Linked DNA regions of Homo sapiens. The protein of the gene in region 2 interacts with the protein of the main gene of each other region in a biochemical or structural test. Each region holds a gene or a part of one and is shown on either strand. Other genes may lie near its edges. The genes, in order: USP9X, ERG and KDM4A.

Region 1 (3,752 bases), on a different chromosome or scaffold from region 2:
GTGCCAAAAATTATTTAGACTCAAGTCTGGCAAATAAAGGATTAACCCACTGTTGCTCTTGGTAAAAAATTTTCAGAGAATGATCTATGAGCATCTATTGACTCTTCCACATGCTAAATCCGATTGACTAACCATGATGTAAGATATATAGGAGCAGTAACCCTGAACTCACAATAATGCTGATTAAAAACAGAACAATGTTCAAGATGATAAAGTAACCAGGCATGATTAACATAAGAGCTTTCTCAGGGTCAAAGGAAGTTAACCTTCCTTGTGGATTTGGTTCCTTAACCTTTTAAAATGTCTGAACCCTACAGTGCTCTCATTTTTCTGTACATGCTCCATCAGCCAAGCCAAGATTTTAGGCTTAACTTTTTTTTTTTTTTTTTTGAGATGGGAGTTTCGCTCTTGTTGCCCAGGCTGGAGTGCAATGGTGCTATCTCGACTCACCACCACCTCTGCCTCCTGGGTTCAAGAGATTCTCTTGCCTCAGCCTCCTGAGTAGCTGGGATTACAGGCATGCGCCACCACCATACCCGGCTAATTTTGTATTTTTAGTAGAGACAGGGCTTCTCCATGTTGGTCAGGCTGGTCTCAAACTCCTGACCTCAGGTGATCCACCTGCCTCAGCCTTCCAAAGTGTTGGGATTACAGGCATGAGCTACCGCGCCTGGCCAGGCTTTACTTTCTATAGATGAAAATAAGTACGCTGAATGTGTACTTCCTAACTATTCAGTTTGCTTCTATGTACACAGTGAAATGTAAGAAAGAATGCCTGAAATGTTTCTCCAAGTATGGTTCCTGGACCACCAGCAGCATCACTTGGGAACTTGCTAGAAATGTACATTTTCCAGCCCCTTGAAGACCTATGAAATAAGACACTTTAGGGTAGCATCTAGCTCTCTGCTGGAGCAACCCTTCCAGGGAGACTCACGCCTGTGCAAGTTTGAGTACCACTGCCTCACAAGAGCTGATTTAGTCACATTTTGGTTTCAGAAAGAAAAAGTTATCATTTAGAATGTTTCTTCATCTCATTTCTTTTGCTATTTACTAGTTTATTTACTTTAATCACCTATGGAAATCTACCCAAATCCTTTTTTTTCCAGTGATTTTTACCATCACTGAAACCTGTGGCTAAGTAACCAAGGACTTCTTACTTCATTGCCATATCTTAATAATGTTTTTGGAATCCAGGTGAAGATTTTACCTCACCGGAAATGTCACCACAATCCTTTGCACTAAACAATGATCATTTTATGTTGATATAAATTCTCATACAGTTTTATTAACTACTAGCACAAGAAGGACACCTTCTTGACAAGGAAAACCCTACAGTGGTTAAGTTCAAACATGTTACACCATGACCCCCACTCCAAACCATCCCTCTTCTGGATCATGCTCCCAAAGCTAGTCTAGATAATCCTACTTCTTACTTTGTAGTCACAACAAACAATTGAGCCATCCTCTAAAATTAAGCATAAAACCCAGTTCTAGGGGATAAAAGCATAAACTGACTCCTGTTTACCTGTTGATACTGAGATCCAGGTGAATGGGGGTACAATGGGGCATCTTCAGGTGGAGGCGACTCATGTTCATCTGGAGCATCTTGGTCATCTGGCTCCTAATTTTGAATATTTCAAGATAAAAAATTACGTAGGCAAACTCAAGTTTACTTTTAACTTTTTCTATTTGAAATAAATTTTAAAAATCTACAAAACTGACCCATTAGCAACTTTTCTTTTACTGCAGATAAAGAACTTGGGGAAAAAACAAAAAAAAAAAAAACAAAACAAAAAACCTGATTTGCATTCTCTCAGAACTACTACATTTCAGGCAATTTCACAGAAATTTCTCCAAAAGAAAGCTCCCTTCATTAGCTTAAAATGACATAGAATAAACATTCTTTTCTTTTCTTTTTTTGAGATGGAGTTTCACTCTTGTCACCCAAGCTGGAGCCCACTGGCACGATCTCCGCTCACTGCAATCTGTGCCTCCTGGGTTCAAGTCATTCTCCAGCCTCAGCCTCCCAAGTAGCTGAGATTACAGGCGCCTGCCACCACGCCCGACTAATTTTTCTATTTTTAGTGGAGATGGGATTTCACCTTGTTGGCCAGGCTGGTCTTGAACTCCTGACCTCAGGTGATCCGCCTGCCTCGGCCTCCCAAAGTGTTGGGATTACAGGCGTGAGCCACCATGCCCAGCCGAATAAACATTTTTCAAAACCCAAAACTTCAACATAATCTTTTAATAATATCATTAATACATAAACACTGGCCTATAAAATAAAGAATTACTTTGCTCTCTTCCATTTCTATCTGCTGCACACTGGTGGCTTTTTTTACCTCCTCTGGACAGAGTTCACAAGCTTTTGCAAGTGTCATCCTAGCACTATGTGATCTCTCCAAGAAATAACCATTGGACGTTTCATTGCTTTGCACTGGGGGAGACCAATTGTTGTAAGTGTACTGAGGATTGCCAGTATATGGTCTTCTTTCAAGTTCATCTCCAAGCCATTCCACTGCCCAGGTCCACTTTCTTTTAAGATCTCCATTGCCCTGCAAAAGAAAATAAAACCATATAGATAAGAGGATTTGGAATACTTCAAAGTTAACTTAAAATGACAACCCCAAGTTCTCATGATTCTCTTCTTTTAAAACAGAATCCTTAATTCTGATTAAGATTTCTACAAAATTATAAGAAAAAAATCCTCACCTGCAGGATTTGGTAAGCAACAGGACAGTTACTAAATAGAGCTACCATACATTTTATACACTGGTATGCTCTTTTTTGATAGTGATTCTTAGAGCGCTGGATTGTGTCAAACAGCCCATCTCGGTCATCTGGAATTCCTTTCAGTGCATTATGAATTCTGAAAGAGAACCAGATATAAAATAAAAACATCTAAAATCTAATAGCTAATATATACTGAGTGCCTACTATGTGCCACTCAATAATGTCTTTTAGTCATTTAATCTAACATTAGACAATAGGTACTATTATTAAACCTTTATTTTTTATTTATTTATTTTTTTTGAGACGGCCTGGGCTGGAGTGCAGTGGCGCCATCTCGGCTTACTTCAAGTCCTGCCTCCCAGGTTCACGCCTCTCTCCTGCCTCAGCCCAACTACAGGCACGTGCCACCACGCCCAGCTAATTTTTTGTATTTTTAGTAGAGACGGGGTTTCACCGTGTTAGCCAGGATGGTCTCAATCTCCTGACCTCGTGATCCGCCTGCCTCGGCCTCCCAAAGTGCTGGGATTACAGGCATGAGCCACTGCGCCTGGCCTTATTATTAAAACTTTTAACAGGTGAGAAAATTGGCACAGAGTTACACAGCTTGCCGAGGTCATATAGCTGCGGAGCAGTGTGACTCCAGAGTCTGTGCTCTTACTAACTTATTACCAGTCCAAAATAATTCTGCCATATATGTAATTTAAACACATTACCTGAAGTGAATTCAGGACACTCGAGAGTAATGCAAACTTTAAAAAAGTTATAACTAAGTTTATGACTGCTGTAGTTGAGGGTAATTTGCTACACATCAATACCTTTTATAAAACTGCATCTCTGAAGGCAAGTTAGGATTCAGTGACATAATTTGGAGGTACAGTATTTGAATTCTAATAATGAGAATACATGGCAGGCAAAGCATTTTGACAGGCAATAGTACAATTTGGCTGATTTGCCAATAACACAGGATTTCATTTCAGTTTCTCCCAAACTACAACAGAGTAATAATACAAAGCCAACTA
Region 2 (3,752 bases):
AGCTGATCTGGAATCTGGAAGCACTGCCCCTTGGATCTCGCCAAATATGGAAAGAATTCTTGTCACTGAGCAAATATAGAATTCAGTGCTAGAGTTTTACCTCTTGAATTTTCTAGAACTTTGTTTTGATTAGCCACCTAGAGTATAAGAATTGCTGCCTATGGGATTTTTCCCAGAAGAGTAGATAACATAAAGTAACCAGCGATAATAATTTTCATTATCCAATTATTTCATGTGTCTCCATAACACTTAATACATCATGTTTCTCTGCACAGTAATTCACTATGTACAGCTAGGGTGAATAGCAGGAAAAAAGAGATCAGATGATAAAGAGAAGGGAGACAGATTTGTGTGACTTGTATAAGATACTTCGCCTCTCTAATCCTTTGTCCTTATCTGTAAGAAAGCAGCAGTACCCAGGCTGCTGTGAGGATCACATGAGACATTATGAGAGTTTAGCACAGGACTTGGCACATAACAAGCAGTTATTAGGATGATGTTAGTTTGGATTATGAATTCAAGATACTACAGCTACATTTTTTATACTTTCTTAAACATCAATTTAAGTCAATTTTAATTAACGTTATTTTACTAGGAGAAATGTCTCTAAAAACATAAGAATTCTATTTGAAGTCTACAATGATAATTACATTACTCTGATATCTTAACTTCCTCTTTATGATTTCAAATAATTAAAATTTAAGTTTATGTTTTCAACAAGTGCTTATTGAACCTCTACTCTTTGCCAGTCACTGTTGAGGACACAGAAGAAATGGATAAGATATCACTAAAAACAGCTTCTGCGATATCAGTGGGTATACATAAATTATTCACACTCAACAACAAACACAAGCAAAGCTGGGAGAATGTGCTGACAGGAAAGAAAATGAAGAGTGGGAGAGTGGACAGATGGGAATCGATGTGAAATTTTATAAAACATGTCTTGGCCAAGCTCAGTAGGGGAAATATGTGGAAAGTAAGCTAGACCAAACAGAGAATAAAAGTATAAATAAGAAAAAAAATCCAGAGGTCACAGTGGACCACTAGCCAAAATGGGTTCACAGCAAACAAACAAAAAAATGTAATGAAATACTAAAATTAAAGAAGTACAAATAAAAATGAGATTCTGTTCTTATCTGTCAGAATGGCAAAGATTCAAAGAGTAAAATATTCAGAGTTGTTATGGGTGTAGTGTGGAACTGGTCTCATATGTGGCTAGAAAAAGGGAGAACTGGTATAATCCTTCCAGAGAATAATCTGGTAATTATTTTTTAAATTGGCAAATATTTAAATTTGGCAAAGACTTAAAAAATATATATACCCATTGGCTCAATAATTCCTTTCTAGGCACCAATACTAATAAAAAGTATTCAAAAAATTAAATAGATGGTGTACTGCAATATAATGAGTGAAACATCGCAAGCAGCATCACTTTATACACTAGGATATTGGTTATAAAATGGTAATACATATTTTAGATAGAATATAATGAAACAAAAATTTTGCTTATCAAAAAATGTTAGTAACATGGGAAAATGCTTGTAAAACAATGCTAACTGAGAAGAGCAGGACAGGTAGGTAGATACAAGGCCAAACAGATACACACGGTGGAGAGACATATCCCAATTGTTAGGAATTTGCTGTGGTTGGTTAGGATCTGAACAATTTATATTGACTTTGTGATGACTTTTAAACGTTTTCTCTACCATAAGAATTTTTTATGTTTATAATTTATGCTAAAGAACAAGATGTATTTTTTGTAATTCAGGAGTAAAGAGGAGAGTGGGGTATTCCAGGGTGCTGTTCCTGCCCTAACCAGGAGCACGATGCAGTCATAGGCCTCTGCCCTCCTCCAGCAGCCTCGGCTCAGAACAGGACGAAGCCAACCCTCTCTGACCAGCACCACCTCGGGCGACCCCTGGACGCTCCACCTGCCCCTGTGTGTGGTACCTGCCCTGCTACACCTTTAACAAGCACCCCTGCAAGCTCCCTCCTCCTTCCTTCCCTGTCCTGTGGCTGCCCAGACCCAGATGTACCCTGCCTGGGTGTGGGAGGCCGCACATCAGAGCAGTCTATGGCTGTGGGCTTCACAGCTGAAGCTGGGCCGTGGGAAATGTTGAGACGAGTGAGTGCAGAGCCTGAAAGACAATACGGTAGAAAAGGTTACATCCGCGGGGGGGCGTCTGATGGCATCTGCCATTTATTGAGGATGGGTGCGAGACAGGGTAGCCATTATGATCCCATTTTACAGGTGACGAAACTGAGATCAGACAGGCTAGCTACCTTGCCCAGGGTCACAACAGGAAGGAAGCAAATGCAAGTGTGTCTGCGGCCACGTAAGGTGAGAGAAGCGCTATCAGGGGTGGTCTGACAGAATCCCCAGGCCAGGGAGCAGTTGTCCTCTATCCTGTGGGGTCAAAGGAGGGGACAAGAAGGCTCTCCTTGAGGTAGCTCCAAAGAAAAGACCCCGCCAGAGCACAGTGTGCTACCAAACGCTGGAACAGCCTGGAGACTGTCCCTGTCTCTTCTCTGAGGTTTCTCATTTCAGAGAAACTCTCATCCGTCTGGCTTCCCCATGGCCCTTACTCTGTGATTCTCTTATGTATCAGCTGTTAAACCAATAAATCCGCCAAATTGTTGGGATGCCTATAATGGCTTTGGGTCTCCACTCCCACAGAGGGAATCTTATTCTAAAGTTCTAAATGTATCAGTCATATTTTCCTGAAGACAACAGAAATGGTTGTTTCATTTACTTATTTTTATGTATGCTTTTTCAAGAGTTGTTAACCTGTGTTTGTGTTTAAATAAAGATCTGTTTTGCAAAACAAAAACTTTATGAGATAATCACTTATAAACGTAGATAATTAAGAAATGGTTCAGGCTCAGCACATTGTCTGAGAGCATTGCAGTCCTGCACTGTATTTCATGGGGGAAGAAAAGCCCACAGATGGAGCCATTCTCAATCCTGCTTTCCAGGGTCACTGAGTCAGGGTGCCTGGCATGCATGGGTGCATGCACACACAGGCAGAGGGCCAGGGAGAACTGTGCTGTGTCCACAGAGGGCAGCCTGGATCACAGAGCTGACCAAGAACGGAAGCAGCAAGTTGTTTTAAAGTAGTTGCCTGTAAAGCCACTTTTCGGCAAGGACAAACACTCAGAGCATGCTCTGAAATGACTTATGCACAGCAGGGCAGCGGCATTTTGCCCCTGGCCTTCCTTCCATTCTCCCGGAATCCCCCTAAAGTAACAAGGACTGACGCAATTCGTATTTCACTTAGCCAACAGGTTGATGAAAAATCATAAATCTGTAGCTATTAAACTCATTAATCACATCCATCAAAATTCTGTGAGGAGTTAACTTTCTTCATATAACTCTTAGTCTTAATTAAGTTTCCCTCACATGTGATAGCAAACGTTCAAGAAGTGCAAATGTGCAGACGTGGCGTATATAATGCAAGCTTTATGTCTTTAAATTAATAAAATTGAGTCCTATCAGGTCGTGTTTCAATTACCATCAAACCTTCCAACCTCTGTTAATTCAAAAAAAAGTAACTTCTTTAGGCAAGTCATGGAAATAGCACTAGGGTGCCCTCAGGTCTCCACCAAGCCTTGTTAGTAACTTTCCATGTCCTGTCTGATTTTTAAGATGCTTTCCCCTGATGCTGCTGCCGGCTGCTGGCTCTCTCCACATCCTTCAATGTCAGATCTCTGTGATGATGGAAAATCCCCCACATTCCCTTTTTACACATTAA
Region 3 (3,752 bases), on a different chromosome or scaffold from region 2:
CATTCTAGAAGGAACACCAGTATGTCCTTTCCTTTACCCACCCTCCTCACTGAGGGTCCAGCAGTTCCGTACCCCCTATCTGGGGCCCAAAGGTATGGCGGTTCAGCTCCAAGACTCTCTTTGAGAGTTGGAGAGCTCAGAAAGGAGAAAAGCGCCTCCAATCCACCAGAAATCTAGTTACAGGCCTGGGAGCAGAACACGGAGCACAACTGTGTAAGGTAGGAGAGAAGGCAAATCCAGTTACCCGTATCTCCTAGGCTTCCTATCAAAAATAAGGCGTGTTTCTAAACAGGCGCTTTTCATGAACCTGGCAGAAACTTTGCATGGCAGGTATACTGTTCTCCCTGTTTTACATACCAGGAAATTTGCCCACAGCCCACTCTTAAGTGCACCTTCCACTGCTCTATACTGCTTACATACTCATCTCCACCTGGACTAAGTCCTCTGCAAGGGCAGCTCCAAGTGTGGAGAAACCCGAAGTTTATTTAATTTTGAAGACCCTCTTAAAAAGAAAAATGAATCCAAAATATCTTACTTTTGCACATTTTATAAAAACATACAATCATGTGAATACAATGTTGGGGCCCTTCCCCGGGCCTTCAAAGGGGCCCTAATGGGCTTCATCAGCCTCTGCCCCTATTCATCTTTGTATGCCTAGAACAATGCATGGCACAGAGTAGGCAATCGGTAACTGTTGAAAAACTGATTTCCTCACCCTCACCTCAATTGTTCATCCCTTCTTCAACCCTAGGATTCCCTTCCCCCAAATCTGTTCCCTGGGGAAAGCTCCCGTTTCATGACACCTTCCCTCCCAATCAGTAACAAAGCCTAGAGATTCAAGAACACCGGCTCCGAAGTCAAAACTCTGAATACAGATCCGGTCTCTGCCGTTTATTAGCTATGTGACCTTGGCTGTGTGAGCTGACTTGAGTCTCAGTTTCTCCACCTGTAAAATGGGGATCCCAACCCCCTGCCCTGCAGGGTCGCTGTGATTAGCTCAGATGATGCAAGCGAAGCACTAAGCACTAGGCCCGGTACTTACCCACTCAATAAAGCTAGCTGTTGCTAACAACCCCCTCGGACTCCCGCACCCTTCCCTCGCAGCCGCTCCCGCGAGCATCACTCCAAAGGCAGCGCACCCTGCTCCCCACCGTCCCCGAACCTCACCGCGCACAGGTTCGGCCCCTCCCGGCCCCGCCGCCTTGGCGAGTGAAGCTCGGCCGCAGGAAGAAGAAAATAAGGCCCAGATGACCCGCCCCCCTCTCCCGAGGTCCATTGGCCTTGAAGATTGGAAAGGACCAATCTCAGAACCCATTCTGGAAGCTCCTTCTCCTATTGGCCGAGAAACATGCCGATCACTCACCGCTGGAAGACCCACCCCCACCGCCCCTCCCCCACCAAAACTCACGGTCACTGCTACAGCGGCAATGATCCTCGAGAATTCCAAAACCCTATAGTTCTCACCTACAGCCCAAAGCCCCGCCAGGGCTTAGGCTCAGCTCCTGCTGTCGCCACTGGCCGATCCTACTGCTTTTCCAGCAGGCGAAGGCCGAAACTCCGCCTCCTCTAAAGTCGGCATCTGCGCAGCCGTACAGAGTCAACCAATTCAAGGGTGGCTGCAAGCCATACACCAGCCAATGAGCACGCGCCGCAGCCACCTCCCAGTCCCGACCTCAGTGTGCTCAGCCTATGAGCGCCGGCTCGGGCTGTTGCCGGGAGGAAACGCTGTACCACTAGGGACCGCGGCCAGTGAGCCTCTAGCTGGATCGCGAAGCTGGCCAATCATAGGCGGGCTCCTGGTCACCCATAACTAATCAGGGTTGAAAGAAGCTAGTACCTGGAAGTGGGCCGGTCCGGTAGATGGGTAAGGGCGGTGAGGTTACTATAGGATGTCGCTAACGAAAGGATAGGCCAAAGTTTTCTTGGGATGAGTATCCTCTTTGCCTAACGTGGAAATGTGTCGGGGCCCTTAGGGGCAGCTTCCGAGCTCAGGGAGTGCTGAAAAGATGACCGTCTTGTCCCGGTTTGTCCTGGGTGTCTCGGTTTTCAAAACAAAATCCCGTGGCCTTGGAAACCCCTCATTCGCTGTCAAGCCTGAACAGGGAAGGGAAGCTGCCCTGAGGGTCATTAGGACAGACCATGAGGGAGGCTCTCCTTAGGGTCATTAAAAAGCAATTCCTGGCCGGGCGTGGTCCCTCACGCCTGTAATCCCAGCACTTTGGGAGGCCGAGGCGGGCGGGTCACCTGAAGTCGGCAGTTTGAGACCGCCTGACCAACATGGAGAAACCCCGTCTCTACTCAAAAAAAAAATACAAAATTAGCCGGGCGTGGTGTTGCATGCCTGTAGTCCCAGCTACTCCGGAGGTTGAGGCAGGAGAATCGCTTGAACCCGGGAGGCGGAGGTTGCGGTGGGCCGAGATCGCGCCATTGCACTCCAACCTGGGCAACAAGAGTGAAACTCCGTCTAAAAAAAAAAAAAAAAAAAAAAAAGCAGTTCCTCAGTGAGCGGGGATTTGGGGGATCATTAGGAGCAGCTCTTGGGGCGGAGAGGGGGGCATCCTGGGAATCAGAAGAGGCACTTCTGGAGGGCGAGGGGGCTTCCTAGAAGTCATTAGGAGCGGTTCCTGAGGGGTAGTGAGTCGCCTTAAGGAATTCCCAGATTGTCAAGGGTAGTGGGGAAGGTCAAGTAGGAAAGTAAAATACCCACAACCAGAGTCATAAAAAAATATACAGAATTACCATGGATGAATAATGGGGTAGTGCCCTGGAAAGAGCTATATGGAGTCAGGCCTGTGTTCAAAACTAGTAACTTCTCTGAGCCTGGGAGTTCACATCAATAAAATGGAAAAAATAATGCCTTGCAAATTTTGTAAAGATGAGAGTTAATGAATGTTGGCAAAAAGAACATATTTCATAGAATGCTATGGACCAATCATGATTTATGCCTCAGGCTGGGTACATGCCTACTGAAAAAAAAATCTTTAAAAAAAATAGTTTCAAAAACAGAAATGACTGTTTCAAAAAGAATGGCCGTTGGCTACGCAGCCACAAGTCTTTCACAATAGGGGTTTTTGCCCTTACCCAGTAAGGTAATCGACAGTATTAGATAATAGATTATACTGAGTGGCTCACAAAAGTGCCGAGTCTGAAGAATCCAACTTGCAGGACACATAAAGAAAACCCAAATCCTGCGGTAGAATTCATCCACCACTGTCTTTCCTGCTGCCACTAAGCACAAGATACTGCAGGTTGCTTCACAGACTCCACTGTCCTGGACATGGATACAGTCGCTAGTTACTGTTACTGTGTTCCATAAACTGGATTTTGCTGTATTTCCTGGTGCTGCCAGATGATTTCCAAGGGCCCTCTACTGTGTATCACTAGCTTCCAATTGGTATGTGCATGTGATAGGTGGAGCCTAAATCAAGTTCTCGTGATATGCTCCCATTTTTCTGACCAGTTTTCCTGTTTCCTTTTTAAGCTCACCTTTCCCTTTGCACACTTTTTGTTTGTTTGCTTGCTTTTTTGTTTTTTTGTTTTTGAGACGGAGTTTCGTTCTTGTTGCCCAGGCACGATCTCGGCTCACTGCCACCTCCGCCTCCCAGGTTCAAATGATTCTCCTGCCTCAGCCTCCTGAGTAGCTGGGATTACAGGCGCCCGCCACCACACCCGGCTAATTTTTTTTGTATTTTTAGTAGAGACAGGGTTTCATCATGTTGGCCAGGCTGGTCTCAAACTCCTGACCTCAAGTG

Evidence for each region.
Region 1: of the proteins of ERG (region 2) and USP9X, one has a biochemical effect on the other in vitro, tested with the Homo sapiens proteins (2 studies listed by BioGRID, with this or other methods).
Region 3: the proteins of ERG (region 2) and KDM4A form a complex in vitro, tested with the Homo sapiens proteins (one study listed by IntAct).

Annotation. Positions count from the first base shown.
Region 1 is NC_000023.11:41,228,370-41,232,121, reverse strand, and holds part of USP9X (ubiquitin carboxyl-terminal hydrolase 9X), read right to left. Parts: intron 2,870-3,752; coding exon 2,713-2,869; intron 2,556-2,712; coding exon 2,343-2,555; coding exon of another isoform or gene 2,295-2,342; intron 1,622-2,294; coding exon 1,526-1,621; intron 1-1,525.
Region 2 is NC_000021.9:38,491,809-38,495,560, forward strand, and holds part of ERG (transcriptional regulator ERG), read right to left. Parts: intron 1-3,752. UniProt on the Homo sapiens protein: Transcriptional regulator. May participate in transcriptional regulation through the recruitment of SETDB1 histone methyltransferase and subsequent modification of local chromatin structure.
Region 3 is NC_000001.11:43,647,965-43,651,716, reverse strand, and holds the start of KDM4A (lysine-specific demethylase 4A), read right to left. Parts: upstream 1,569-3,752; 5' UTR 1,465-1,568; intron 1-1,464. UniProt on the Homo sapiens protein: Histone demethylase that specifically demethylates 'Lys-9' and 'Lys-36' residues of histone H3, thereby playing a central role in histone code. Does not demethylate histone H3 'Lys-4', H3 'Lys-27' nor H4 'Lys-20'.